2 linked regions of the Homo sapiens genome follow. The protein of the gene in region 1 binds, or shares a complex with, the protein of each later gene. Each region holds a gene or a part of one and is shown in the gene's direction. Other genes may lie near its edges.

The links.
Region 2: the proteins of USP25 (region 1) and TNKS are in contact, whole or in part, in a crystal structure (PDB 5GP7), measured with the Homo sapiens proteins. Residues at the interface, in NP_037528.3 of Homo sapiens: Ser1046, Ser1048, Arg1049, Thr1050, Pro1051, Ala1052, Asp1053, Gly1054, Arg1055; in NP_003738.2 of Homo sapiens: Arg836, Ser838, His842, Leu843, Gly846, Tyr847, Leu871, Asn876, Ser879, Tyr880, His882 (codon at 113), Asp900 (codon at 167), Trp902 (codon at 173), Phe904 (codon at 179), Glu909 (codon at 194), Gln912 (codon at 203), Lys913 (codon at 206), Gln934 (codon at 269), Glu935 (codon at 272).

What each region holds. Positions count from the first base shown.
Region 1 is NC_000021.9:15,829,098-15,838,771, forward strand, and holds part of USP25 (ubiquitin carboxyl-terminal hydrolase 25), read left to right. Parts: intron 1-1,433; coding exon 1,434-1,504; intron 1,505-2,303; coding exon 2,304-2,532; intron 2,533-4,229; coding exon of another isoform or gene 4,230-4,243; exon of another isoform or gene 4,244-4,250; coding exon 4,251-4,451; intron 4,452-9,674. UniProt on the Homo sapiens protein: Deubiquitinating enzyme that hydrolyzes ubiquitin moieties conjugated to substrates and thus, functions in various biological processes including inflammation and immune response.
Region 2 is NC_000008.11:9,747,912-9,757,585, forward strand, and holds part of TNKS (poly [ADP-ribose] polymerase tankyrase-1), read left to right. Parts: intron 1-112; coding exon 113-301; intron 302-3,697; coding exon 3,698-3,935; intron 3,936-4,632; coding exon 4,633-4,715; intron 4,716-9,674.

The sequences.
Region 1 (9,674 bases):
CATATTGATATTTCCTAAATAGTGCTGGTCTTCGATATACATATTTATACACTTCTGTAAGTAGGATATGTTCTTTTTTATGTTCAGGGGTACATGTGCAGGTTTGCTATAAAGGTAAATTACATGTCTTGGGGGTTTGGTGTAAGATTATTTCATCATGCAGGTAATAAGCACAGTACCTGATAGGTGGTTTTTCCATCCTCACCCTGCTCCCACCCTCCACCCTAATGTAGGCCCCAATATCTGTTGTTTCCTTATGTCCACCATTTCTGGTTCAGAGTGTGTATATTTTAAATTTTGACGACTGTTTTAAAATTGTCACTCCAAAACATTAAACCAGTTTGCATTCCCACTGTGTGAGAGAGCCTGTCTCCCAGTATCCTCCCTAGCCCTGGACACTTTTTAGTAGTTTTTCACAATTGAAAAACTGGTATTTTAGTGTTTTGATTTGCATTCCCTTAGCTTCGAGTGAAGTTGGATATTTATATTGTTCTGTAAATTTCTTGTTTGTGACATTTGCCCATTTTTTAAGTATTGAGCTATTTGTATTTTTCTTATTACTTAATAGAAAGTTTAATGTATTGTGGATATTAACACTTTACCTATAATATCACATATGCTGCAGATATTATTTTCCCAGTTTTTCATTTGATTTTATGTTGGTTTTGTTTTCTTTTTATAATGTAGATTTTTTAAAGTGTTGGGCAGGGAGGATCTTATCTTTTCCTATAAGGTTACTAGTTTTCTGACAGGCTTAAGACAGGTCTTTCCCCACTCTAAAGTTAGCCAGTTTCTTTTATAGTTTTTCAAGGTTTCTTCCTGATTGGTTCAGCAGCTTCACAATATGATGTGGTTACAATCTAACCGTTTCCTTATTGACAGATATTTAGGTTATCTCTTTTTTAAAAATTATTGTGGACAATATGACTGTGAACATCCCTATCTGAACAATTTTGTAGGATTATTTTCTACTAGAAGTAGAAATAATTGTCATGGGAGTGCCATAATTTTATTTTCACTGGTGATTATAGTCGATTTTTATTCAGTTATGTGTGTGTACAAGATATGTGGTGAACATGTTTTACTTTGTTCTTAAGTTTACTTGTGTTATAGCAATATGTAAGGAAGCTTAGCTTTCATTTTCATTGAAACTCTCCTTTATAGATTTGAACAAAATTCACTTTTATTGGCTCTGCACATTTTCTAGATAAATCATATTTGTGTTGTTTTTAAAGTATGCATTTGTACTGTGTCTTTTATTAAGAATAACTATAATTCATTTTCTACAGATTTCAAATGGTAATGTTTTTTAAGAAAAGTTTTAGGAAAATTTTCCTATTCCTCTAACATGTTTGTAGGAAAAACATTAGTCCTTATCTTATAAGTAGAAACACATTTGCTGTTAATCATTAAATGACACCTTATATCCTTAGATTTGCAGGAAAGCATATCCAGAATCCATCGAACAATTGAATTAATGTACTCTGACAAATCTATGATACAAGTAAGTGAAATTTTGAGCTAGTAATCATTGTCAAAATTATTTACATATATTTTAATTTACCTTTACATTATCTTAATCTAATTTTTCTTTACATGTTTTGTTTTAAAATTTTGGCAAATCTTATTGTAAAATAATAAGGGCTTGCAATATGTACAATGTGACAGTTCATCTGAATGGGGAAACTTTTATAACAAATTTATAACAAAATTCATGACAAGTTTTCCCCATTCAGTTGTATTTTCACACCGTATGTGTTGTGTACCCTTACTATTTTACAGTAAAATCTACCAAAGTTTTTCAAAAGGCTATAGCATCTTTAAAAAGTCTTATGGGAGAAAATCTATGGTTGTTAAAGGATATTAAGATTTGGGAAGAAACTTAAGGACTCCATTACATTTTAACTTCTGGTGTATATCATATAATCTATTTTGTTAACCGTCAATTTAGAATTCTGAAGATGTAGACACATTTGCTATATGTAAAACTGCCCACTATAAGCTTTTTATTCAAATAAACAATTAGGCCAATGAGTATGTACACAATAAATACATTTTTAGTTTTTCAAAAATCATCTTTTTAATCTATCAACTTTGCATATCTTTAGCTTATTCAGATTCCGTCTTTTTAAAGTTTTATAGTTTAGTTTTTTTCAAACTTTTAAGCCCAGCCAGTTCTCTCTCATTTAAAAAAAAAAATGCTCTTATGGTTTTCTCCAAACAGGTTGTTTGTGGGTTTCATGGAATGTGGTATATAGTAAACTACATAATTGCAGTTTAACTCTTCTTTTTTTCACATTTAGGTTCCTTATCGATTACATGCCGTTTTAGTTCACGAAGGCCAAGCTAATGCTGGGCACTACTGGGCATATATTTTTGATCATCGTGAAAGCAGATGGATGAAGTACAATGATATTGCTGTGACAAAATCATCATGGGAAGAGCTAGTGAGGGACTCTTTTGGTGGTTATAGAAATGCCAGTGCATACTGTTTAATGTACATAAATGATAAGGCACAGTTCCTAATACAAGGTAAGAATATATAGGGTGGTGTGTATTTTTAAATAGTCATAAAAGTGGCTCTGGTATGTGGTGTGATTAGTTAAGTGTAATTCACTCAGACGATGAAGGATGTGGTTAGGAAATGCTACTGGGTTTTGACAAGACTGAATTGAAAAGTAATGTCGTCAGGGCTAAGAATTCGTATATATTTTGTATTCCAAGTCAACTATTAAAGGTAAATATGACCTTTTTCGTCCTTGCTAAAAATGCTTTAGTGACTGTTCCACAGATTGACTCACATTTAATATTTAATTCCTTAGCCTAACATATATGGCCTCTGTTCTTGGCCTCTGATTATCTCCCCACCTTCATTGATCACCAGTGTTCCTTTTGAATTTATATCCTTACTGAACTTCTTGCTGTATCTGCTCATATCAAACCATTTCACACATTTATGTTTGCATGTTCGTATATGTTTTATTTTTTGCTAGTAATTCTTTTGCCTAATTCTTGTTTATCTGTCAAGATTCAATTCAGGTGTCATTTCCCCTGCAAACTATTTCTTGATCTGCCAAAAAGTATCTCTCCTTATGCTGTCCTGGCATCTGTCTACTGGGCATTTACTGTTGTGTATTGGAACTGTGTGATGACTTGTCTTGCACATTTCTCTCTTATCTGCTCAGAGCCAGAGATCATGTCATACTATGTCTGAATCTTTTTAATGCTGATATTCTGATATATGCTTTGCATATAGAAAATAATAAAGGTTTATTGAAACTGATAAAAATAATCTTTTTATATTTAGTCATTCAGAATCAGCTAGGCAGTCCACTTCTGACTAAAAAAATGAAGTTATTTTTCTGTGTGTGTAGTAGAAGTTCAGTAATTCTTCTGAATACTCTATTGTTTTTAAGATCTTGCTATATTAATTTTCATAATTGCATATTTAAGTCTACTTAATTTCTTCATATGACAAACAATTTTCATTTTATTTTGAGCTAATAAGGTTAACATGATTATGAGTTGTTTACATTTTGTGAAAAGTTTTACTTTTTAAGTGATCAAACATCTGGTATTTTCCAATAGTGGCAGAAGTAGTATTACATCACTGTTAGAGTAGCAAAGAAAAAAAAAAATGGCCGGGCGCGGTGGCTTATGCCTGTAATCCCAGCACTTTGGGAGGCCAAGGTGGGCAGATCATGAGGTCAGGAGATCGAGACCATCCTGGCTAACACAGTGAAACCCCATTCTACTAAAAATACAAAAAAATTAGCCGGGCTTGGTGGTGGGCACCTGTAGTCTCAGCTACCCGGGAGGCTGAGGCGGGAGAATCGTCTGAACCCGGAAGGCGGAGGTTGCAGTGAGCCGAGATTGTGTCACTGCACTCCAGCCTGAGTGACAGCATGACACTCTGTCTCAAAAAAACAAACAACAACAGCAACAAAAAACTTGGCTTTGGCTTTGTATTTTCTGTCACTTCTACTCTTAAGATAAAAAAAAATCTGAGACCATTACCTATGATGGATTATCAAATATTTTCATCATTGTTTTTCTGAGCATTTGTTTGAGTTTTAAAAAGTTTTGTAGATAATAATTATTTGCTAAGCAATAGTAATTCTTAAGTAATATGATTGGCTGAGTGGTAATAATTCATAGTTTAAATTCTATTTGAAATGCAGTCTATTTTGAGCTTTGCATTTTCCCTTTAATTCTTAATTTTATACTAGTTTTTGAAATATGATTTGCAGAGGAGTTTAATAAAGAAACTGGGCAGCCCCTTGTTGGTATAGAAACATTACCACCGGATTTGAGAGATTTTGTTGAGGAAGACAACCAACGATTTGAAAAAGAACTAGAAGAATGGGATGCACAACTTGCCCAGAAAGCTTTGCAGGAAAAGCTTTTAGCGTCTCAGAAATTGAGAGAGTCAGAGACTTCTGTGACAACAGGTTTGTCCATTTTTATTAAGTTGTGTTTGATTATCAATATTATTTTTATAATAAGATATGCTCATTATTAAAAAGTTTTAGCTATCTTAAAGTGTGAGGAAATCAGTAGAAATCATTTCAAATTCCATCACTCAGATTATCACAGTTAACAATTTAGTTTACCTTTTTGCCAGACACCACTGTATATATTTATATGTTTTTCAAGATAAATGAGATAATTCTGTTGACTTTCCCTCTACCTACTCTGCCTGTGTTGGGTGGGCTTGAATTTTCTTGGCAAGTAGCAGAGAAAGCTGTGAAATCAGCAAGAAACCCAAACCAATTCACTAAAGCTATCAAGAGTATCAATTCAATAAAGCTATCAAGAGTATCAATTCAATAAAGCTATCAAGAGTAGTAATTTTAAATTTGGCCAAAATAATACTACCGGTATATTCATATATACTTTGTGCAATAGTAAAATACTACCATTAATAACTATTTGATGTTTTTCGGAATTCTTAAGATTAAGAGAAAATTGACCAAAACTATTTAGTATATCACAGGTAAAAAGTAAGTGTATAGACCTGTAAACCAAAGATATAAATGCATAAACATATAAATATTTAAAAACATTATTCTGAAATGAACTATTAGCTGATGAAATCAATAAGTCAAAGTAAACACTGTATAGGAATTAAGAAAATAGTTTCTAGTAAAATTGAAAATATATTGTCTTTTTATTTTCTTAAAAGATTACTCTTCACTGAGTTGCAAATATGTTTTAGGGCAACATGTTTTCTGGTATAGAAAATGCTATTTCTCAGAGAAGCTATAAATTAAGCGCATATATTTTCCTCAAACTCATTTGTCTCTTTTTATAACTGCTAGTGGATATTATTGAATAACTTTTTTTTTTTGCAAGATCTGCATGTTTTGTGTTTTAAGGAAGTAGTTCCAGCTTTTGTTTGTTTAATTTCATCTTTCGCAGACAGAGGTTTCCTTGCAGCATTACCTGGTTGGGCTTCAGCATTATCATTTGAACTTTAGAAGGAATTATTACTTCAATAGAAGATTGTTTTACAGTGCTACAATGTAGTATTGTGACTGTCGCAGGCATGCACAAATCTGTCCAGATACTTAACTTATTTTCATGTAGATCAAATAATTGTCGTTGATTTTGATCCTGAGAGGCAGATAATTCAGCATTTTTTAAAAAGATAATGGTATCACAGCAACATTTGGATACTACAGTGCTATGGAGAATACCACCATTATAGTGGCTGGTGAACTCTACCATTATGTAGGGCTGCACTTTTCCCCCACGTGTACAAGGCTACCGCGTAGAGCAGGTGAAGCTATGTGGGTCCACAACAATGTAGTTTTTAGTAGATGTCAAGAGGTATCTAAGCTCAAATCACAGTGTAGTAACTATATTATAGTTCCTTTCATTTTTAAAACATTTCTGTCCCTTTGTGATTTCATGCTTTGCATTCTGTACATATTCTTTCCAAATCACTCCTCAGAACCTGCCCCAAGATGGAGCTACTGTGTTATTGTTCCCTTAACATTTACTTATTCCATTCACATGTGACTATTCTTGTTATTAGTGGGAGGAAGGGGCTGCATAGTGTACTATAAGCAGTTGTGGTACCTAAGCTCCCAGACACAGGTGAATCCTCCATTCATTGGTTAAGCTCCAGTTTTATTCTTGGCTCACCTATATTTTGTGATACCAAAATATTAAGTTCTATATATCCTCCTCCTCTTCATCCTGTCTGTTTCTCATCTCTCCAAATTTTCAGAGTTAACATATTTTATTTCTGCTTAGTCAAACGAATACATATTTCCAACTAATATTCCTATCTATTAAGGACTAGCCTTGCCCCATCCTCATTTTACATTTGTCATCTTTTTTCTTTCTCTGTGAAAAGACCATGTGTGCATAACTGCATCCATTTTCATGATCAATACATCTGACCATACACTTTACATGGTGTTTTGTAATTTTTAAAAAATGCAGTACTAGGTATTGGACATATATTTTCATGTCTGTTTTTACCATGCAAAATAATCTTAGAATGTTGATATATTTCTGGGAGGAACCAGAATAAAAGATGAAGAGATGGAAATGGTCAATTCCTATTCCTAGATAACTTTTATAGTTACCTTTCAGCGTGGGTTATTTAGAAAGCAGTGGTAATACTACTTCTGTAGGAAACATTGTATCCTCCATAGACTTGACGGAAATATGCACTTGGTTTGAATTAGTAGAAGTAGAACATGCCAAGTCCATAAATTTACAGAGTGAGATTGTTGTTTAAAAGATTGGTTTCTATTACTGTTATCTTTGAGATTATATTAAGAAATTTGTTCTCTGTTGCAGGATAGTTTCACATATCATAATTGAATAAGACTAATGTTTCATTAGAACCATTTATTCCCTATTATTAATAGGGAAATTTTATTTTAATGTCCATGCCATCCTCTTCTGATTCTTCTCATGGTTTTCAAAGTAAGTAATTTAATTTGGTATAATACTTCCAGGATCTCAAAGCAAATCTGTATTTTAATCTCTCAGGTGTTCACTAGTATTACCAGTGACTAGTGGAAATAATAAAAGGAAATCTTGTTCATAAAATCCAACAGAATGATTTTTTTCCTCCCTGCAAAATCTTCTCGTTAAAGCTGAAACATAAGACCTCATAAAATTCAATTTCTACTGAGTGATATTCCAATTAAGAGTACTAATTCATATTATATTAATCAAATTAGTATTTGTTCCTCTTCTGCTAAAATGTGATCGAGAAATTCATGCGTATCAGTTCACCAGCACCATTCGTTCCCTACTGAGATAATAAATGATGGGAAAGTATTTTTTGGTTCATTTCATGCTGCTTCCCTAGATCTGCTTACTGCAAAGGCAAACTTACCTGAATACTTTTGTTGAGATTTTCAGCCAGCCATTCTTTGCTGTCAGTGTGGGGATCAGAATGAGTAGGGGAGCAAACTTACCTGAATACTGTTGTTGAGATTTTCAGCCAGCCATTCTTTGCTGTCAGTGTGGGGATCAGAATGAGTAGGGGAGCAAACTTACCTGAATACTGTTGTTGAGATTTTCAGCCAGCCATTCTTTGCTGTCAGTGTGGGGATCAGAATGAGTAGGGGAGCAAACTTACCTGAATACTGTTGTTGAGATTTTCAGCCAGCCATTCTTTGCTGTCAGTGTGTGGATCAGAGTGAGTAGGGGAGCAAACTTACCTGAATACTGTTGTTGAGATTTTCAGCCAGCCATCCTTTGCTGTCAGTGTGTGGATCAGAATGAGTAGGGGAGCAAACTTACCTGAATACTGTTGTTGAGATTTTCAGCCAGCCATCCTTTGCTGTCAGTGTAGGGAACAGAGTGAGTAGGGGAGCAAACTTACCTGAATACTGTTGTTGAGATTTTCAGCCAGCCATCCTTTGCTGTCAGTGTGTGGATCAGAGTGAGTAGGGGAGCAAACTTACCTGAATACTGTTGTTGAGATTTTCAGCCAGCCATCCTTTGCTGTCAGTGTGTGGATCAGAGTGAGTAGGGGAGCAAACTTACCTGCATACTGTTGTTGAGATTTTCAGCCAGCCATCCTTTGCTGTCAGTGTGTGGATCAGAGTGAGTAGGGGAGCAAACTTACCTGAATACTGTTGTTGAGATTTTCAGCCAGCCATCCTTTGCTGTCAGTGTGTGGATCAGAGTGAGTAGGGGAGCAAACTTACCTGAATACTGTTGTTGAGATTTTCAGCCAGCCATCCTTTGCTGTCAGTGTGTGGATCAGAGTGAGTAGGGGAGCAAACTTACCTGAATACTGTTGTTGAGATTTTCAGCCAGCCATCCTTTGCTGTCAGTGTGGGGATCAGAGTGAGTAGGGTTTTTTTTTCTGAGTGTGAACAGCACACCCTACCTAAGGCCACTTAAGAGACACTGGAGTCAGAATCTCTGGAGAAAGGATCTGATACAGTGCTATCTTAAAGAGATCTTCAGATAATTCTGAGGTTAAGCAGCATGGCTCTAGGCTGTATTTATAAAACAGAAATTATGCTGGAGAGAAGAGCGTTGTCCGAGTTACTATTTTACTTATATTACTCTTGTCTTATCCAAGAAGTATCTGAAGTCCTTACAATATAGCACACCCAGATTTCTTTAAAAAATAAGGAAACACTAGTGAAGATTGGAATGAAGTGTATTGCGTAAGGTTTTATAAATTTCTCTAGAGGAAGCAGGCAGAGTTGGCTCTGGAACTTCTCTACACTGTCTACAAGTTAAAAATAAGCTGATGTTCCAGGAGAGTACGGTTGGATCCTGAGAGTAAGACCTGGTAGAATAAACAGTATCGTCAGTGTTCTCAGATTCCTTGAAAGCAGGAACTAGGTGATATTCTTTTTTTTTTTTCTGAGACAGTTTCACTTTGTTGCCCAGGCTGAAGTGCAGTGGCATGATCTTAGCTCACTGCCTGCCGGGTTCAAGCAATTCTTGTGCCTCAGCCTCCTGAGTAGCTGAGACTACAGGCATATACCACCACACTGGGCTGATTTTTTTGTATTTTAGTAGAGACAAGGCTTCACCATGTTGATCAGTCTTGAACTCAAATTCCTGAGCTCAGGCAGTCCTCCCACCTCAGCCTCCCAAAGTGCTAGGATTACAGGCATGAAGCCACCATGCCAGGCCTGGTGGTGTTCTTATTTATATCTCCAGCATCTAGTATAATAAACGACATATGATAGATGTTCCTTGAAAGTTTTCTGTTAATAAGTTCATTCCCTATGGAGATTTCCAATAATGAATTTCTTAGGGGTGATCCTCAGTGTAGGAGAACATAAAATTTTAAAGTAGAAACAAAATAGTCACACAATAAGGAGGCAGGCCAAATACATGGGGTGAGGATGTAGCTCTTTGTCCCGGATAAATTTATGGTTTGACTCTGGTTTCTAAACCTCTCTCCCCCACACCCCTCAGACTTTCTTCGGAATGGGGCCCAGGAATCTGAAGTTTCAAAAATTCCACCAGCGATTCTATGCAACCACCTAAGCGTGGCTCTTTGTAGGCTCTTACAGGGTATTGTGGACTTTTAAATACATTTCTAGAAATGGATGCACTGTGTATCTCTCAAGCAGTCCGCTTTAAATCTTCTTCAGTGTGAACGTAATAAGTATTGACTTACTAGTAAGTCAAAAAAATAAAGACTTCTGAAAGATATCAGAGATGTTGGT
Region 2 (9,674 bases), on another chromosome or scaffold:
ATGAAAATGGAGATACAGAGGAGTGAATTGTTAAATAAAAACAGGTATACACAATGGTGCTTTACCAGATGATCTCATTCTTAACTCTTTGTATCCTTTTCTTTTTTTTCAGCATGTTGACATAGCGGCTTTATTGATAAAATACAACACGTGTGTAAATGCAACAGATAAGTGGGCGTTTACTCCCCTCCATGAAGCAGCCCAGAAAGGAAGGACGCAGCTGTGCGCCCTCCTCCTAGCGCATGGTGCAGACCCCACCATGAAGAACCAGGAAGGCCAGACGCCTCTGGATCTGGCAACAGTAAGTCCTCATTTCAGATACTGATTATTGTTCCTTCTACTTTCACAGATGACATCAGATTCTCGGGTTCACCAGCTTACTTTTAGTCGTGTTTATTTCACTTAGAACAGAGATCTTCTGAAAATTTTTGAAGTTCACACTTTTTCTATGAAAATATAATTTAAAACTCTTAAGACAAACTAAACAGTAAGTTAATTTAATTTTTTGCCATTCTTAGCCTGCTGGGAAAACATGGATCTTAAGAAAACATGTTTTTAGAGTGTACCCTCAAAGAATTATATTTAGTAAAATATCTTGTACCTTCTATATTTGGCATGTTATTGTAGAGCAACTAATGTTCATGATAATTTACCTAAGTCTGTGAGATAGTCAAAGAAAAATTAACTCTGGGCAGTATTATTTAACTGCAAAGTTAAGCACTGCATCATCTTCCGTGAACTTTCTGAAAACCAGGGAGTTACTGTATAGTCACAGTAATTTCTAATTTTTAAGCCAGAAATGTTTTTTCAAGTTATGTTCTGTTTCATTTATTGATTGCTGCGTAACAAACTGTTTCAAAACACCCAGTGGCTTAAAATAATAATGACTTATTATTTCTTATGATTCTGTATGTTGGCTAGGAGATTCTTCTGGTCTTACCTGGGGTCACTTGTGCAACTGCATATAGCTGGTGGCTGGGGCAGAAACATAAAGACGGCTTCATTCATATGCCTGGGGCCTTGACAGATACAACTAGAAGGCAGGGGCCTCTCTAGTCCCATGTGGCATCTCATCATTAAGTGGTCTTGTTAGAATTTCTTCACAGAATAATTGTATCTCAAGAGGGAGAAAGCAGAGGCTGTCATTGTTCTTTAAGGCTAAGCCTGGAACTGACATGCTGTCACTTCTGCCACATTCTGTTGTGCAAAGCAAGTCATGAAGTCAGCTCAGGTTCAAGGGATAGGAAAACAGATTCCACCTTCTTTGAAAGGAGAAGCAAAAATTTCGTGGCCATCTTTAATCAGCCACAGTCTTCCCTGTGAATACAAATTAAATCTATTTTTCCCACATTCAAATTACACTCACCTGCCACGTGCTCCCCCCACCAACAGGGGGCAGATAGTCATCACTGGGTCCTTAGCAATTCTAAAATTCAGCCAGACACATGTTATCAGGGCCATCTACTCTGGAGTTAGGGAATGATCCCTGATTAGGGCCCAGTTCTGCTCCCAGGGAGTGGTTCACTGTGGCTGTCTTTTTTTTTCCTTTTTTTTCTTTTCTTTTTTTTTTTTTTCCCCCTTAAGACACAGTCTGGCTATGTCACCCAAGCCAGAGTGCAGTGGCGTGATCATGGCTCACCACAACCCCAACCTCTTAGATTCAAGCCATCCTCGTATCTCAATCTCCTGAGTAGCTGGGACTACAGGCACATGCCACTATGCCTGGCTATTTTTTTTGTTTTTACTTTTTGTAGAGACAGGGTCTTGCTATGTTGCCCAGGTTAGTCTTGAACTTCTGGGCTCCTCCCTCAGCCTCCTTCCTCAGCCTCCCAAAGTGCTGGGATTACAGGTGTGAACCACTGTACATAGCCTCTGTAGCTCTTGGCCATGCCCTCTGAATTATCCTTCTCTTTTCATAAGAAATGGATCATATTTACAGCCAAGTGGCTTTCTCAACCTGTTCCCTGCTCCTAGAAATTTTCGGGACCCTGAGCCTTTTATCATTTTGATCTACCTGTCCCTTTTAGTCCAAACTAGTACAACTCTTCCTTTGTAAACTTTTGGATTTCCCATCAAATTACACACCACTCCATCAGCCAAAAGCTCCACCCACAAATCTTTTCAAGACAGGTCCCTCTCTAACATGGAATCCAAGTAAAGGTGCAGTGGGACAATGCCCATAAGATCCTTTGAAGCTCTTTCATCTAGCCAAGGGAATTCACAAGGTACCACCTTAGAGGTTTTTTAAAGATTTTGAGGTAATATATCTGTACCTCTAGTTGATTTTTATTCTGAGGCCATGTTTTCCTGTCAGCACGCTGGATTTGACCTTTGGCCTGAGGCTGTGCCTTACTTGAAGAAACTTTTGCTGATGGAGAGGCTGGGAATGGTGAATAATTTTGTTTTCTAAGCTAGCAAATGTTAGGTGAATACATTTCCTTAAAGAGAACTGGACAGTTCCTTTCTCTCTTCCTGTACCTTATCATGGGCAGATAAACACACCAGTCCAGTTGACAAGGCAGAATTTGTTCTGGAAATTTCCTTAGCCAAATTTACAAATTTATTTAGGTTTACGTTCTACCTTCCGTAAGACCTCCTGTGGCAGCGTTGCCAAACTTTCTGCTACACAGCATTAGTCCCCTTTCTCTCGCCTTCAGTAGCACTTGCCTATCTATCTTCCATTCACAGCCTCCCTCAGCAATAACCAGGCCACCCTTCACGCCTCCAACCAAAGCCACATGTCCACCAGCACCCCACTTCCAGGTACTGGTGTGCATTTCATTTCTCTATTGCTGCCCACTAAGCCACCCCCAAACCCACTGAGGGTTTAACGTGACAATTTATTATTTCTCACACGTCTGGGAGTTGACTGGGCTCAGCTGGGTGGTTCTGGTTTTGCAGTTACCTGCACCTGGGAACTCAGCAGAGGCTGGAGCTTCCAAGATGGCCTTTCATCCCGCAGGGCTCTCCCTGCATAGGATCTCACCACTCAGTAGTCTAGCCCAAACTTCTGTACAACATGGCAGATGGCTTCTAAGAGAGTAAAAGTAGACACTGCCAATCCACTTAAAGCCTGGCTCAAAAGCCTCAGAATGTCACTTCTTCTCCATTCTATTGGTCAAGACAACTCACAGGGCAAACCACATTCGGCGGGTAGGGGGCAGAAATTCAAGGGGAGGCATACATGACGGGAGGAAGGAATTGATGGGTGGCTGTCTTTGGAGACTATCTCCCGCATACTCGAAAAGCAGTTGCATCTAATACTTAAAAACTGAAAAGTTTATGAATAAATGAGCTAAATTAAAGTGTCATCCCTTTGAAATTTCACCAGATGTTAATTGTACATGAAATTATTAAGTGTGAAGTAAATAACCAGATTATAGCTGTTTAAACGTAAACAAAATATAGTAAACACAGAAATTTTTTCTAAAGAAGGGTGACAGTTAACACTGAAAGTGCTTTTTTTTAAATGAAAGAAGAAATATCTTTAAAAATTACATAGTTTCTCCAATTCTGTCTACTGAAACTATTGAAACTCTTTGGAGCTGTGGATAGGAGAAGGAATGATCAAAAACCAGTAGGTGATAATGAGGCATTCATTAAGGAAAAAATCCACAAAGTATTTGGTTATCAGTGAAAAACTTACCATTTTAATATATAGTATTTTCATGGTTTTTGTTTTTAATCATTTTTTTAGGCTGACGATATCAGAGCTTTGCTGATAGATGCCATGCCCCCAGAGGCCTTACCTACCTGTTTTAAACCTCAGGCTACTGTAGTGAGTGCCTCTCTGATCTCACCAGCATCCACCCCCTCCTGCCTCTCGGCTGCCAGCAGCATAGACAACCTCACTGGCCCTTTAGCAGAGTTGGCCGTAGGAGGAGCCTCCAATGCAGGGGATGGCGCCGCGGGAACAGAAAGGAAGGAAGGAGAAGGTGAGTAGACCCCATGAATGCTTATTTATTTATACCTTTTGTTAGTGGAGCAGAATGACTTTTTTCTATTGATAACTATTGAATGCCTCAATTAGAGACGTCCTGTCTGTAAATTTTCATACACACAACATCTTACAAGAAATATTTCTTCATAGAAGGCTGCCACGTTTCTTGGCATTGTCGTTGTTCTTATTTCTGTATATTCTAGAGCATCTGTTTACAACCATAGCATCTTATTGAACCACTTATACTGAAATTGTGTCAGAACACAACTGAGAGGTCATTTCAGGAATGAAAACTAAAATGATAGCTGATACATTTAGATTTTTTAATTCATTAAAAGCTTTAGATGTTTCTATATAAGTAGCATTCTGTAGTATAAGAATTATACTATAATGTTAAAATTAGTATAATATTCTCTATATTTTTATAAATTACAATAAGTTATAATTCTATATTCTAACCATAATATTAGAATACAAATACTAATTTGATAAAGATAAAACACTCTGTTTTTACTTCCCAATCAACTTCAGAAATAAAGTGTCTAAATTAAATCTGTGTATTCTGTATTATTTTATGCCATGGAAAATCATCTGACAGCCAAGGTTGTCAGAGTCATGTCTAAATGGATACTGAAATTTTCTTTATATTTAGAGAATTCTTTCTGAGAATCTTTAATATGTTTCTGTTTTAGTTGCTGGTCTTGACATGAATATCAGCCAATTTCTAAAAAGCCTTGGCCTTGAACACCTTCGGGATATCTTTGAAACAGAACAGGTAAATACTCTTGTATATATTTGAGTCATTTAAATTAAATACTAAGATTAGGCTGGATGCAGTGGTTCACACCTTACTCCCAACACTTTGGAATGCTTCGGCAGGATTGCTTGAGCCCAGGAGTTTGAGACCAGCCTGGGCAACAAAGCGAGACCCCCATCTCTACAAAAAAAAAAGTTTTTAAGTTAGCTGAGCATGGTGACTTACTGGGCCCCTGTAGTGCTAGCTGCTGGGAAGCTGAAGCAGGAAGATCATGTGAGCCCAGGAGTTTGAAACTGCAGTGAGCTGTGATTGTGCCACTGCATTCTAGCTTTGGCGACAAAACAAAACCCTATCTCGAAAAAAAAAAAAAAAAGAAAGACTTATTAATTGCCACCCACCTCTTCCTCTTTTGCTTCTTACGAGCTATTCTTAAACCCACAACACATTTCTATAAGAAGCCAGAGGAGCCCAGTATTTTATACTTCTCCCCAAAATTGTCTAACAAATGAGTCTTTATTTTATCTTTATAAGCAGTCTAGCACTATGCATTTTATTACATGTCAAAACTTAGACCATGCAACTACCTCAAAAGAATGTTTTCATGATTGTCCTTGGTTGTTTGTTTCCGAAAAATGTCAGTCTTTATTCATCTCATTTCATTATTCATGTGACTAGGCTCCTGAAGCAGTTGCCCATTAATTTGGAAAGCACAGTAGTACTTAGACAACTGCACTTTTAAAAAATTGCCCCTTTATGAAGTTTCTGTTGTCCACTTGGAGTCTTAAATAATATTAAACCAAAAGTTGGCCATACATTCCAATAGACCCACCCTATTTTGGGATCCATCTTAAATGTCTGTGAAGGTCTAAGGATGGAGTCATCATTAGGGCATTTATGAATTAGGATTCTTCTGTTTGTTTTACTGTTTTCATACAGGATAAGGAGTTGTAATATTGTATGCTTTCATTATTATGATCAGCTTTAAATATTGAATGATGGTAACTCCTGAATTTAAATGGACTATTGATATACATGAAATTTAAGAATGGGAAAGGTGTTTAGAGAAAAATTATTCTCCCAGGTGTAGGGATCACCCTTGTATAATAACACCCATGTTAGTCCTCCAGCCAAGGAAGATATCTTGTTACAATTTGGGACAGGTGTAATAGAATGCTTGTAACTTAAAGTGTGCCAAAATCTGCCCGTAGGTATAATTCCTTTGTTTTCAGCTTACGCTTACGCTTACCCTGTTTTGCACAGAGATCTAATCTCCAGTCTACATATGTATTCAGTTTCAGAGGACTATACTCCCTACAGAGGCTGTAGGGGAGAATCTATTCCATGCCTCTTCCTGCTTCTGATGGTTGGCAGCTTCCTTGGCTTGTGGCCATGCTACTCCAGTCTCTGCATCCATCTTCACATTGCCTTCCTGTCCTCTCTATCTCTTCTAAGGACATTTGCATTGAATTTGAGGCCACCAGTATAATCCTGGGTGATCTCCTCATCTCTAGACCCTTAACATAATTTCGTCTGCAGACACTTTTCTTCCAAGGAAGGTGACATTCACAGGTTCTGGGGATTAGAACATAGACGTATCATTTTGAGGGCCACCATTCAGCCCACTACAACATAATATGGCCCTAGATATCTTTTTAAGACCTAGTCAACTTATCAGAGGTGTCACCCTTTCAATCACCCACCTCTACACATCTTCCCCTATTTTAGAATAAATCTGTTTTTTCAATTATTCTTTATATGACATAATTTTCCAGTATTTCACTGGCACCTTTGGCCCATTATGGTTCCCTTCTAGGCTTATAGTCAGTTTGGAGTTAACTTAAAAACCAGGTCTTTTTTCTTATTTATATCAATTATACTGTTAAGATTTTTTTTCTGCTTTCTCTCTTTTTTTTAGCTACATTTTTTCATTATAGTTCATCTTTAATGCTCTTAATGATAAGAACAGCCGAGTAGGGATAGCACTGGACTAAAAGAAGACCTTAATTCTAATTATTTTTACCCTCTTACTAGCTGTGTAAAATTGGGCTGAATGACATTTATCCTATCACTTCCTTTACCTGTAAAACCTAATGCTTATAAATGTTCAGAGAGTTAAAATCCTCAGTAATATTGTGCTGCTGTGTCAGCTTTTAATACAGTGATGCATCACAGGTGCCTTTGCGTCTAATGGTTAGGACTTTATAGACTGCTGTCTATAAAATCATTTTCTTTTCCAACCATTTATTCATCCTCTGGTTTGGAGCTTTCTTAGGACAATATCCTAAATAGTAAGACTGCTTCATCCTTATTCCCTAACTGAAGGTGTGAAAGCTGATTTAAAACCATTATACTCTGCTGTTCCCATATTACAGCTATAGCTGTTCTTCCCAAATCATTTCCACAATAATTGTAAAATTTCAAACACATCTTTGCTAAATAAACCAAAGACCTTAACTCAAACAAATAATTCCAATTTACTGATGAAAGTTTTCTAAAGAATGTTCATTTTTCTTCTTTTAGTCAGTTTGCATTATAATTTTATGTGTTCTTTTTAAATTTATATCGTATATTCGCATTGTCAGTAACTGACTTCCTGTGGCGTATTTATCACATTTTATTGATTTGAATAGTTTAATAGTTTAGTCTCCTAGTCACTCCTTCTGACAGCTTGTCCTGGTTTCATCAGTTTCATTGTTCTTTTTTTACTGCAGTTTCATTCTGAGTAAATGGTTCCATTGGTTTTCTTTTAGCCAGAATAATTTCTATAGCCTTTTATTGATCAATACATAGACGATTGCATTTAATGTATATTACCAAGCACAGTTCTTTCCCTCCAGACAGGTGATACTACCTTTCTTTGTATTGAACTGTGTCTGGCCCAATCATCAAGCAATCAAATTTATTTTTATTTTAATTGCAAATGTTATTTATCTAGCCTTCCATTATAAATAAATTTGATAACCTTTTCCATAACTTTAACCCTTAGCATTTTCTCCCATTAACATTCTATATCAGTAATATGTGATGATGGTCAATGTATTTGTATAGTCGGGGAGGAGTGAGGGTGCATGCATTGAACGCATTTAATTCATATCTGTTTGGCTTAAGCCAGGGGAGCCGTTGTTTTCTGATGCTCTTTGACATGCTTCTATGTCTCATTGCCTGTGTTCCTACTCATGGATGCCAGTGGGGTGTGGAATGTAGTTATTTTATTTCTGGTCCCAGAAGAAAACCTTCGGCACATCATAGCCTCACCTCCTATCTTCACAGTTACTCTCTTGGAAGTCTCTAAACTAAATTGTCCTGTTTCCCATAGATACTTTGCCAAGTTCTATGTTGAATAATATAGTATCCTTTCTAGTTAATGAAATATAGTACCCATGTGACTTTGGCCCTTCCTTTATAACATAGCTTTGTACCTATGAACATAGGTAGGAACACTTTTTATATGGGAAAGACAGATTTTATTTACACTGCAATTCCTAGAACATAAATGCTATCACTTGGAAGACTGCTTGTGGACATTTTTATGGTTAACCTATGTATTTTCATGGAAAGTGACCAGATAAATTTTGATTTCAAATTCTTGAAGACAAAAGCATGGCCTCCCATAATTCATTGTGAACTTGATTATAAAGTTAGTTCTTATTACTCCTGCTGTACCATACAACCTTTTAAGCCCAAGCAAGAGGACGTCTTTTTCATTAAAACTAGTTTTCTCTCCCCACCCAAAGTAAAATGACTCTCAGAAGCTAGAGGTAGCTCTTTTTGCAGTGACCTTTGCTTTATGTGCAAGATGACTTTAACTGACACGTGGATAATCTTTATTCTTAGTAATTTTATTTTAATGTATACTAGATAGAAATAACTAGCCCAACAAGCTTGTGATTTCCTCAGTATAATAACTAAGTCAAGGTTTTAAAAAAGGAGCAAGTTAATTTAAATATGATTTTCAGAAAAAAAAATGTCTAACAGCTGATAGGGGTATATATAAAATTCCTGAGTCTTGAAGCAACATGTCTAAAATCCAACTAACCTGCTTTCCATCCAGATATTTCTATTTCTTTTGTTGATGCAAAAGTCTCATAGTTACCCAGCTACAGAATTTTGGAATAATCTTACTTTCATTCCTTTTATTTTAACCATTTCTATTTACCAGGCCCTGTAAATACAGTTCTCCAGTTGCTTTCAGATTCATCCCTTCCATGCCATTTTATCTTCTTCTTATTCCCAGTTGCCTTCCCTTCCAAATCTGCCCTTCATAATGCCAACAGTCTCATCCTCCTAAAATACAACTTTGATCATATTACTCTGCTGAAAAGACTTCCCAGGGCCTTTGGTATACTTTTTTTGTTTTTGTTTGTTTTTTTTTGTTTGTTTGTTTTTGAGATGGAGTCTAGCTCTGTTGCCCAGGCTGGAGTGCAGTGGCGTGATCTCAGCTCACTGCAACCTCCGCCTCCCAGGTTCACACGATTCTCTTGCCTCAGCCTCCTGAGTAGCTGGGATTACAGGCATAGGCCACCATACCCGGCTAATTTTTGTATTTTTAGTAGAGATGGGGTTTCACCATGTTGGTCAGGCTGGTCTCAAACTCCTGACCCCGTGATCTGCCCGCCTTGGCCTCCCAAAGTGCTGAGATTACAGGCATGAGCCACCACACCTGGCCAGCCTCTGGTATACTTCTAAGCCTCTTAGTTTGATAGATAAGGCCCTTTAAGATCCTCTCTGTGCCTGCTGCTCTGCTGTGCTCCTTTTAATCCTTGATACATACTCTCCTGTAACCATTTTGAACTACAGTACTTAAGGTCCCTCAAATACTCTGTATTCTTTTAACTGATTTTCCCTTTGCACATGGTATTCCCTCTGTCTTAAGCCCACTTCCCTCCTTCCCCTGACTGATGAGCTCCTGCTGCTTAGCTGAATTATGACCTTCTTCTGAGAACCTTTCCTCATCTCCTTCCTGCTCCTTCCTTCCCA